Regions from separate parts of the Homo sapiens genome. Here all the other regions are reported to be linked to region 1. The links are microRNA targets in miRTarBase. Many come from high-throughput screens and were not tested one by one. Region 1 holds a microRNA gene; each other region holds the end of a gene's coding sequence.
The links. The annotated mature microRNA hsa-miR-1-5p reads ACAUACUUCUUUAUAUGCCCAU and lies in region 1 at 2,200-2,221, shown strand. An mRNA with a match to its seed (bases 2 to 7 or 8) in the 3' UTR can be bound and repressed. Matches are read on the target gene's strand: a 7mer-m8 pairs with bases 2 to 8, a 7mer-A1 pairs with bases 2 to 7 and ends in A, and an 8mer does both.

Region 1 (4,650 bases):
GATGAGCGGCGGAACCCAGGTGCCCCCGAAGTTGAAGCTCAGGCTGCGGTGTCGGGTGCCCTTTTTGTATCCTTGGCTACGTGAAAATGATAAATCACAGCAGCTACGTGGAAATGGGACATCAGCTTCTGCTTCTGTCTGCCATTTGCTCCTTCCTTTGTAGAGGGGATGCCTCCAGAGCCTTAAGCACAACCCCCACCCCCCGCCCCCACCCACCCCCACGTGAAACTCCAACCCAGCCATGCCCAGCTGCAGACCCACTGCCACACAGCCACAGCATGCTCAGTGGCCTCTGCACACTGCAGGCTCTGCGGAGACATTGCCCTGCCCTGGGTGGTAAGAGAGAACCAACTCGCTCCGGGCTGTCCCCTCGCATGGACGGGCTGCCTGGAGGAGCAACAGAGTCATGTTGGACCTCTCTTCCTGATGAGGACAACGGGAGGTCCTTTCATGTCCCGGGGCTGCTGTCCCACCCCACGCCAGGGTCAGTGGCAGGACAGGGGCCAGGGCCCAGCTGGACCCCACCGCTTAGCAAGCCTCCTGTGTCTGTGCCCGGCCTGCACCCCCAACTGGCGCCTCCCTGGCCCCCGTCCCCCCCAGGCACCTGCAAAGCCTTCTTTCCACCTCTCACCACCGCACGTGCCAGGCTCGCCCTGGGCCACTGCGAGGCCTCGAAACCCTGCAGGCCTCCTCCTCCTCCTCCTCCTCCTCTCCCCGCTCCCAGCAGGTTCGGGGCGGCTTCCCTTCCTGCTGGTGAGGGCCTAACCTTGAGGTCCCATTGGTCTCCTTCTGGCTCTTTCTCCACATTTTTCAGAGTCTGGCTTCACGGCTGGTCATAGAAGTTGGCAGGGAAGGAGGCAGCCTCTGCTTCCCACTCAGAGACATTTTTAAACGCAATGAAAAACATATCGATACAATTAAGTATTCCAAAGTGCTTAGTTTGCCACTCGCTAAGTTTACTTAAACCCTCTTTAACAGGCTCATTAGGAGCTGGTGAGCACCGGGAAATTCATTAACAGGAAGGCGGCCCCCTGCATTTGACTGTAAATTGGTATTGATCAGGGGCTGGTGGAGGCTGGGCGGCTGGCCACAAAGAGCCAGGTGTGGGACCAGCCTCCCGGGGGTGCCACGGCAGTGGCGCTGGGCAGGTGACGGTGGCTGCTGACCCCCGGTGCCCATGTAAGCTGCTGGCTCTGCGCAGCTGCCGCTTCAGGTGGGCCGCACTGCGCGGCGGTTCAGGGTGGTGACGCTGCGAGGCGGGGACGGGGGAGAGGGTGAAGAAGAGCGAGAGAAGGAGGGAGAGAACCGGGGGAGCGACGCTCCCTCGCCCACTGGGTGTCTGCTGTGGCCAGGCTGAGGCACCTAGGGAGTTGCCCCCCTAGTGGACGGCCTCTCAGGAGATCCTGACCACCCTCTGGGAACCTGGACTCCTCCAAGCATCGTCTTTCTCGCCTGCATCTTCGGAGAGAGGTGCTGAGCCCTTCCTCATGGATACGGGGTCCCGGGAGGCAGCCTTCACCAGGGACCTGCCCAGGAAACCAGCAGATGCCCAGGTAAGCCCCCAGGACACCTCTCGGGTCTCTGGTCTGCAGTTCCTCGTCTGGCCTCAGGAGCAAGGAGTTGTCCAGCTCCCGGAGAAGGAGGAGGCTGGTCCTGCGAGTGGGGTGCTGGGCAGGGCGCCCCCCAAGGTTCCTCTCTCCACCCAGCCCTCTCTGGGCTTGGCTGGGATGAGGTGACCCAGGGGGACAGGAAAGTGTTGGCTTTGAAAGTTTGGGACATGGATGATGCCTCCCTGCTCTGGGGTGAGGGTGGAGGGGCAGCCTGTCTCTTCCATGGACGCAAAACCGAGCTACTGCTGGGGCCAGGGACAGGCGCTCGAGACTTTCTGGGGCTCACTGTCCACTTCTGCCTTTCTGGATCGTGTGAGTGTGTGAGACAGACAGAGAGAGATGGATTCAGGGATGGAGGGGCGCCGAGGTCAGAAGGGGGCAGGGAGTCCTGGGCCCCTGGGGGTGGCTGGACACCAGGCAGCAGTGGCAGGAAGGCTGTCCTGCTCACACAGAGAGGGCTCCGGCAGTAGACTCCAGGGAAGAAGTTACACTGCCTCTGAGCTGCCTTCTCTACATCGCAGTGGGGTCAGCTTCTACCGGGGCGGCGTCCCGGGGTCTTGGAACTGCATGCAGACTGCCTGCTTGGGAAACATACTTCTTTATATGCCCATATGGACCTGCTAAGCTATGGAATGTAAAGAAGTATGTATCTCAGGCCGGGACCTCTCTCGCCGCACTGAGGGGCACTCCACACCACGGGGGCCGCCGCGGCCGACAGCCAGCCAGGCGGCTGTGGTGGGGGTGAGGCTGGGGCGGCAGGCTGCCTGGGCGTTGGTGGACGGTCGTGTCCCCGCCAGCATTGTTCTGTCACTTTGCCTGTGTCAGCAGGTGGAAGTGCTCACCAGACATTAAATATTCAGCTTGCTGACTGCGGCAGAGGGGAGGCGGCCTCCGGCAGGCGCGGGGTCCAGCGCGGGGCTGGTGAGGGCTGGGGGGTCGGGGCCGTGGCTGGAAAGCACGGAGTGGTGGCGGCGGCTCTGGGGGCTCCACTGATGGCCATCCTGGAAGAGGCCATCAGCCGGCAGAAAGGGCCACGTGTGGCCAGGGCAGAAACTGCTCAGAGGCACAAGACAAGAGCGAGTTTGGAAAAGGGCAGGTGGCTGGATGCAGAAAGGAGGGAGAGGCTGGGCAGCACATGGTAGAGTCTGCGGAGGGAAGGCACCTCCTGCACCTGCATCCAGCCCTCCCGGCTGTAGGGCAAGGCAGAGGAACTCGGAGGCATGTAGCCTCCAAGGAAGGCGCAGCCCACACGAGATGCTGGGGACGCGGGCAGGGTCAGGGCCACCACTGCCCTTAGGCCCCACTCCTCTGCCGAGGGCACCTGGGACAGGGTCAGAGGAGCTGAGTCTGTGCAGCCCTGAACCCACAGCCCACCCCAGGGGCCTGGGAGCCGTTCGATTTTGCCAAATGTCTGGTTCATGCCGCCCCAACCTGTACCCCCACCAAAGCCCCGGTTCAGCTTTCTCTCTGTTCCGCCGAATCCAACCTGAGGCATGTTTTGCTGTGAATGCAGGTGAGGCTTTGGCAGAAAGCAGCGTGTGGCCCAGGGCCCCTTGCCCCACCTGTCGGGGGCCTGAGAGCCATCTGCTCTGCCGCCATCCCAGTCCTGACCCGAGAAAGGACTGGGAGGATGTCCTGGGGCCCAGGGGATGAGGGCAGGTCCGGATCCGTCCGTGAAACCCTTTTCCCCAGTGCTGGTCCTTCAAGGAGAGGATGGGCGGCGGGTTCTGGGGTCTTAGGCAGCGGCTGGGCTGCTGTGTGAGGGGCGTTTGCCCGGCTCGTTTCTGAGTCTCAGATTGGAGGCGTTTGCCACCTGGGATGAGGCCAGGTCCCTGCCTGGGCACCCCCACCCTGCCACAGGCCTCAGGATTAATTTCTGGGGTGTGTGTCCTCTCTGCCTTGGCACTGCTCCAGCCACAGCGGTGCCCCTGTGCCCTACCTCCCGCACCCTGGCCTTCGGCAGGAATGAGGCGGGAAGGGACAGGCAGGCAGCCCCCTCCTGCAGCGGCTGGAGGCCTTGGGTCTGGGGGCAGCCAGGTCACCTGAGCAGCTGGGGCCAGCATAGGGAGCGCTGGATAAAGGGATTGGGGGCCGTTCTGAGCTTTCAGGTGGCTCCCACCCCTCAGGGAGCCTCGAGGTGACTGGAGGGGAGGGCCTGGCAGTCAGGGCTCCTGGCCTTCAGGTCTTCCTTCTGGAAACTTCGTTCTCCCAGCCTCAGCCCCATCTGGCGTAGCAGCAAGGGGGCGGGTGTTGACCTCGGGCACAGCCTCCTCTCGGCCTCTGGACCCGGAGGGTCAGTGCCCAGCATCCGCTGACGTCATCTCTTCCCTGCCTGCTCCCAGCTCCGGCCACAGGGAGGGAAGTAGCCGGGCGTGTGGCCACCGAGGCTGCCGGTGGCCACAGACACACCGTTCTTTTCCCCTAGATGCGGCTGTTGTACATTAAAGCTTTATTGCAGGATGTGGTGTTTAAATAAAAGCATTAGTGTTTTGGAATTAGGTTTGACTGAGCAGTAAAACTGGAGAGTTCACAGGGAGAGAGCTGCGGCCTGCTTGGCGGTAAATCACCTCCAGTCTCTGATCTGCTGAATTAAAAATGAGCATTGCACGGACACCGCCCATGGCAGCCCGAGCCCCTCTCCCCTGCACGTGTGGCCTGATGGTGCTCCCTGGGGATCCTGCTGCTTTCCTGGAGACACTGGGACCCGGGGCTGGAGTCTCCCATGCGTGAATCTCTAAAGCTTGGCTCCCGGGCAGCAGCCAGGACGGGAACCCCAAACTGGCGTGGGGCATGGACACGCTGGGACTTTCCCCTGTGGGGGTCTTTGTGCCTGTCCGTTTGAAGGAGGGGAGAGCAGGCAGGGCGGGGGCACAGACCCTCACTGGCTATGTCTTGCCCGCAGGGACTCTCCTGAGACGGCTTAGGCACGCTACCATGGGGGCCGGGACTCTCAGAGGGAAATGAGCCTGGACTGGGCTGAGGGGGCTGGACATGGGACACCCACCCCCTCGCCTGCCAGCTCGGGAACCCAGGTGGGTTT
Region 2 (3,000 bases), not on the chromosome of region 1:
GCCCTTGCAATCCTTTAAGTTTGTGATGGGGGGTTGTTTGTTTTAAATTTGTCCCTCAAAAGGAAGCTGCATAAAGTTGACATACAGCAGATATTCCAAGCATTCCTTACATATTAAAAATAATTACAAAGATAATATTTTCAAACAACACAAAACAAATCTACACTACGTAAAGTCTTCCTTCTTTCAAAGAGGTATTCAGATGGTACTGTGAAAGACTAGCTCTAAATGAAAGACTGAACAAATTGAAATTCTTTGCTGATGGTATCTTCATTCCTGGGTTATGGTGAACATCCTCTTTTGCTTATCCCTCACCCTACTAAGATGCAGCAATTGCTTGGGGCTTTCTGATACTTAAGGATGCTGGTCCAAGTGGTGATCACTAACATTTTCAGGTGTGAAATGGGCTGAATGGGCTTAGAGCTCTAGTTTTCACTGGGGATCCATTTTTCCAAGAACCACTATTTCAGGCTCCCAACTTGACTTCTCCTAACCCAAAATGGCAGAGGTGAGGCAGGGACCCTCTCCATGAACAGACAGGATGGGCAGAAGGTTGCTGTGGCCTTCACTGGGGAGCAAAATTTTGTCAGCTCTGTCCTGGCCTCTTCCATTGAGCAAGGCACCTTCAAGTCTTGGTGTTCTGAATGTCCAGACACCTTCCCGAAGTCTTGTCTCTGGACAAGATTTCCTATGGGTCCCCTTGATCATTCGGCCTGAGTTTGGGGTTTCTTTTCCTGTTCCCTTTTCCCTTACCAAAAGTTCTCAAAAGATAAACCCTGGTTTCCTCAAGTCTAGTTTCAAAGCAATAAGTGTTCAGGTAGCAAACATCTTCTATCTCATTGCATCAATCTCATGATCACAAATGCCACATTTGGCTCCCAACCTGCTCCAGGCTAATCCAATTTTATGCAAAATTATCCAGAGGTGGGATGGTGGGCATAAGTCGGCTTGAGTGTGGTCCTCCAGTCGAGAACCTCTTGAGCACAGTTAGATAATGTAGGCACTTAAAGCACGAGGTCCAAGCAGCTTGACACATGTCATTCCAGAGCCACCTCTGAAGGGTCCTTCAGAGGCCTTCGTTTTGGAATGTCTCAAATACCATGCCCCACCTCCACCTAGACCTTGGGATGGCCACTCAGAAATTCCTCCCGCACTGCCGGTAAATGCAATGCCAACTCCACATAGCCTCCATTTGGCTGTTCAGTCTCATGTCACTGGCAATGTGGATTCCTGTTCTGATCTAGGTGTTTCTGGGTTGATACAGGGCTCTACCTTTTGCTTACAAGACATTGTTAAGCCTCACCATGAGTTTTTTTTAAGCTTAGCCATGATTTACCCAAATGTTCACTCCTCATAAAAAATAATCTTCATTTTGGGGTTATTTTTTGTTGTTTTCTGTTCTAAAAAAAAATCACTGTTCTCCATGCTTATACGAGTGTCATGATGTGACACAATGTGTTCACTTGTTCACAGCAGTGGTAAAATATTTCAGAACGCGCAACTGATTTTTCTTCCTTAAAACAAAACAAAGAGGAGACCAGAGGGGGAGGGGGGGAAAGAATGTGTTCTGAGCAAACATAGGTCCTTCCGTCAAAAGCAGCTTACTCTGACCAACGCCCAAAGAATGAGCGGGGCCTGGGAGGTGCATCACGGGATGTGGAGTGTGAGCATTTTTTTGTTCAGTTGCCTTAATTTTTATTCACTTTCTAGTCATCTGATCGATATTGCAAACATCTTCACAACATACAAATGTATCTTTTATCAGCCAGAATATATATTGTAGGAATTCTTTCCCCATCTCTACTCCCTGTGGGAACTAAAAAACAAAACAAACAAACGAAAAAAAAACACAAAACAAACAAAAATATACCCCCCATCCCCCATCCCCTAAGCCAGTAAAGCAATGACAACAGCACCTTGACATTGTTTTAATTCCAACGCTATCAGAAGTTAAAAGCAGTAAAACAGATATAGTACTAACAAGAACGAAGATACTTACTGTCTAAAATGTAAACGGAATGTTTTGGTTCAAATTTTTGTTGTGTGTGTGTGTGTTTTTTTTCTGTTTTCTGAAAGAGGACAGTTTATTATCAATTCACAATTAAAGCAGCATGCAATTTATTATTTTTTTTAACTTTTTATGTTTTCAGTTCTTGGCAACGGCAACAAACCACAACATTATCAAGGAATGTAATGCAGACTTTTTAAGTTGTGCGCAAATGACTGTTTCCCTTCTGGTCATGGACATGTCCAATAAATAGATTGTAGAACCACTGTACTGTATAAACTTCATTTATACATGCAGTTCATAAAATTATTTTTTTCTTAACTGAATAATTTACCCTGTTATGTATATATACAAATAGATAATTTTTGTCTCAATATAATCTAATCTATACAACATAAATCCACTATCTTCCCCTTTTAATGGTCAATGTACATACACAAGAAGTGTCTATCCTTATGAATCGCCAGCCAATTCTCTTTTTGCTATCCATGGTAAGGGCCCGCACGTACGACTGGGTAGTTCGGCACTGGGAGTTCCAATGCCTTTTGTCTATGCCCCTGCAGCCTTCTTTTGTGTAACCCATGGGATTGCACTTGGTCTCGTAGAAGTATTGCTTCAGTTGGCCTTTTGATACAGGGACCTTTTCAAGGACTGTGACCGTCCCGCCCGACATGTCCACTGCAGTCTTTTTGTCTGCCGCCGTTACCCACTCACTAATACTGTCACACACGCTCAGCTCCCCTCGGCGGGCAGGGTCAGAGTGGCGCCGGACCCTCATGGACATGTTTGCAGCATCTAGGTAATTTTTGTATTCCTCCAGCAGAAAGAGAAGAGGAGGCTCCAAAGGCACTTGACTACTGAGCATCACCCTGGACGTGTACAAGTCTGCGTCCTTATTGTTTTCTTCATTGGGCCGAACTTTCTGGTCCTCATCCAACAGCTCTTCTATCACGTGTTCGAAAGTGTCAGCCAATGATGTCAAGCCTCTTGAA
Region 3 (3,000 bases), not on the chromosome of region 1:
GGCCTGAGCTGCCAGTTCCAGCTGGAGTCCACTGCCTGGAGTGAGTACATATGGAGCTTTTTCCCCAGCCCACCCATGGCCGCCCATGGACCGATCAGCACACACTTCCCCTCCTGAGCCCATAAAAACCCTAGAGTCAGTAAGACTCAAACAGACCCTCAGGACTACCAGCTGCAGGAAGGAGCTACCCATTGTGAGTCTCCTTGACTCTTCTGGATGACCTGCTTGTGGAAAACAGCTACCCACTTCAGGTCTCTTCTCTGCTGAGAACTGGACACTCTATGGGATGACCTGCCTGTGGAAAAGAGCTACCCACTGAGGGTCTTCTCTCCACTGAAAGCTGGACACTCAAATCAGGAAGACCTGCCTGCAGAAAGGAGCTACCCACTTTGGGTCTCCTGAGAGCTGTTCTATCACTCAGTGAAGCTCCTCTCTGCCTTGCTCACCTTCCAGTTGTCTGTCCACCTCATTCTTCCTGGATGCAGGGAAAGAACTCAGGACTTGCTAAATGGTGAAACTGAAAGAACTATAACACAAACAGGGCTGAAACACATACCCCCCTTGCACCCCAACTCACCACATTGTGGGTGACAAGAAGAGCTACAGCTATTTGGGGAGTCCAGACCTAAAGGGTGCCTAAGCCAGGGCTGTGACACCCTCTTTGGAGCTCTGTGGTTCCTGGCATCTCCAAGCTTCTGGGTGCCACAGTGTTCCCCTTGTCCAGATGTGGGTGCCTGCAGTGGAAGCCACGTGGTGCATCTGGTCCAGCTGCAACCTCGCATGAAGGTGCCCACCCCAACACAGCAGCTGGTGTGCCTGGCTGTGTGCAGTGTCTGGACCCTGCATGCACTTGCCCACACACCCCTCGCTGCTCCGTGCCTGGTTCGCTCTTGGCAGGTGGGGGATCTGGGCTGGTAGCAAAAGCCAAGCACGGCCTGCCAGGCTGAGTGGCCAGAACAAGCCCAGTGGGCATGAGCATTACTCAGGCAGAAGGCACCACCGGCCACAGACATTTCTGGCTGGCAAAGTGCCACCCCAAGGATCCTGTGACAGGAAAATCACTTGAGCCCAGGAGTTTGAGGCTGCAGCAAGTTATGATTGTGCTACTGCATTCCAGCCTTGGCCATAGAGCAAGATCCTGTCTCTAAAAAAAAAAAGATGATTGACTGACATTTGCAAAATCCTAGCTGAGGAACTGGGGGCAGAAACAGTCCAGTCTGTGTAACCAAGAGAAGTCTCAAATGGTGAGGCATCAAAGAAAGAATTTTAGCCTTACCCTAAAGGGACATGGATTTTTAAAAGGTTGAAAAATAGTGCTTTAGGGATGGTTCCGAGGCCTAAACCCTCAATAAATTGCTTTTTTTTTCTCAAAAAATAAAAATGGCCAAAGTTTTTGGAAACCATAGCATATATCTAATGCCACCAAACCATAAGCAAAACTCATCTGTTCTTTAACATATGCAGTTTGGTTCTTCTACTGACTTGTTTTTATAACACTGACCTACAATTTAAGAAAAAGTATTAGGAATTTAGCTTTTATTCAAAATTAAATAAGCAAAAGCAAAAATTTTAAGAAACTTTTACAAATTACTTACATAAAAGAAAGTTAATAAGGACAGTCACAAATTTGCAACAAATAATTACAAAAGTTTCTAGGGCAGCATGAATATAAACCATGTTGCAGCATGGTGATCTAACTGTGATATGAATAAGGCATAACTAACATTTGCACCGAGACCAGAATTAAAAACAAAAACAAACTTTAAAAGCTTAGTTCTATATTAAACTTCTTCTCTTTTCCCAGATCCTTAATGGGTTTATACTATGCATTTTTTTTTAAAACAAACACATCATGTCAAACTATAAATTACACAAATGGGCAGTTAATGTGAAAAGCCCCCTAAAATGTACAAACTAACTGGTACTGAATTGAGTTCTCCCTTTACCTTTATGTACAATTAAATGTAAACCATATTTTCACAGTTTTGAGTGTTTTATGAATAGATGCACAGTACCATGTCAGGTTTACAATTGTTCCTGAAAACTGGCTCTAGGTTCTGCATCCAATGCCTGTCGGCCACTGTGATGCAAGTATTTACATAAATAAGAAACTGTGTCATAGTCAATGGTCAAGACAGTTCAGCAAGAGCAGTGTTTCCAACAAAGAATGATCCTCAACACGATATTTTACATACTTGTGCAAATATAAGCATTAGGACAGATATATCTGAGGCAAATTCAATTTGCAAAAACTTGTATCGCTACTCTTGTAAACTTGGGCAATAAATGACCCTCGGCAAGTTCTGCTCTCTATGGCTTTTTTGTTTGTTTGTTTTAAAATTTTAAAGCCAGAGAAAATACACACACACTACCCAACCCCCACAAGCACACACGCACGCACACACACACACACACTCTCTCACAGACATAAAGAGTTCTTATTTCATTTTAGAGTATGGTACATAGTGCAACTTCACAATGTAGAGGTTCGACACACATTCAATGCGTGTTTTTCTGTGCAAGTTCTTAGTGGTCTAAATCCTAGTTGAAGGTATTCATTTGCAGAACCACATGATTCAGGAGGTCGAAGGAAAAAGAAAAGTTTCATTAAATTTCTGAAACCAGCACTAGATGTGCAAAGGCAGCAGACAATCTGGCCATCAATGCAGCCAGATTAGGGTCACTTTAAAGGGAGATCCAAAGAGTTAGTTACTTAGATTGGTCTCTAGAAAAATAGGTCAGTATATGCTGTATCTTGGTCAACCGTTCTTTCAAAGACTTCATTGACAAAACCGACAGCTGGTATCGTGGGTCTACAGGGAGAACTGCAAGAAGCCACCAACACCATGCAGGTCCATTAGGGGCTGCCTAAAAACAATGGACAGTTTATAGCATTAATAAAACAAGGATTTATGTAACAACAGTAGCAAACCACCAAAAAATTACTATTTATTGAGCACTTGTACTATGTGCCAGGTGCTATCTCCAATGTCCTTAACA

Region 2: the mRNA of BDNF is a reported target of hsa-miR-1-5p. The part of its 3' UTR that is shown has no 7-base or 8-base seed match.
Region 3: miRTarBase lists LONRF1 as a target of hsa-miR-1-5p. Seed matches in the 3' UTR shown: 7mer-m8 at 2,191-2,197.

What each region holds. Positions count from the first base shown.
Region 1 is chr20:62,552,113-62,556,762 of GRCh38, forward strand. It overlaps MIR1-1 (microRNA 1-1), which reads left to right and starts at 2,194; the gene lies at 2,194-2,264. It overlaps MIR1-1HG (MIR1-1 host gene), which reads left to right. Exons shown (of 4, transcript NR_171007.1): 2 at 1,353-1,553. RefSeq lists an enhancer at 4,608-4,650.
Region 2 is chr11:27,655,410-27,658,409 of GRCh38, forward strand. BDNF (brain derived neurotrophic factor) reads right to left here. Exons shown (of 2, transcript NM_001709.5): 2 at 1-3,000. The coding sequence ends at 2,412. BDNF-AS (BDNF antisense RNA) reads left to right here. Exons shown (of 7, transcript NR_033315.1): 4 at 2,832-3,000. Among named protein-coding and RNA genes, the nearest start is that of LINC00678, 22 kb to the left of the region's middle.
Region 3 is chr8:12,720,387-12,723,386 of GRCh38, forward strand. It overlaps LONRF1 (LON peptidase N-terminal domain and ring finger 1), which reads right to left. Exons shown (of 12, transcript NM_152271.5): 12 at 1,520-2,868. The coding sequence ends at 2,710. Among named protein-coding and RNA genes, the nearest start is that of MIR5692A2, 2.8 kb to the left of the region's middle.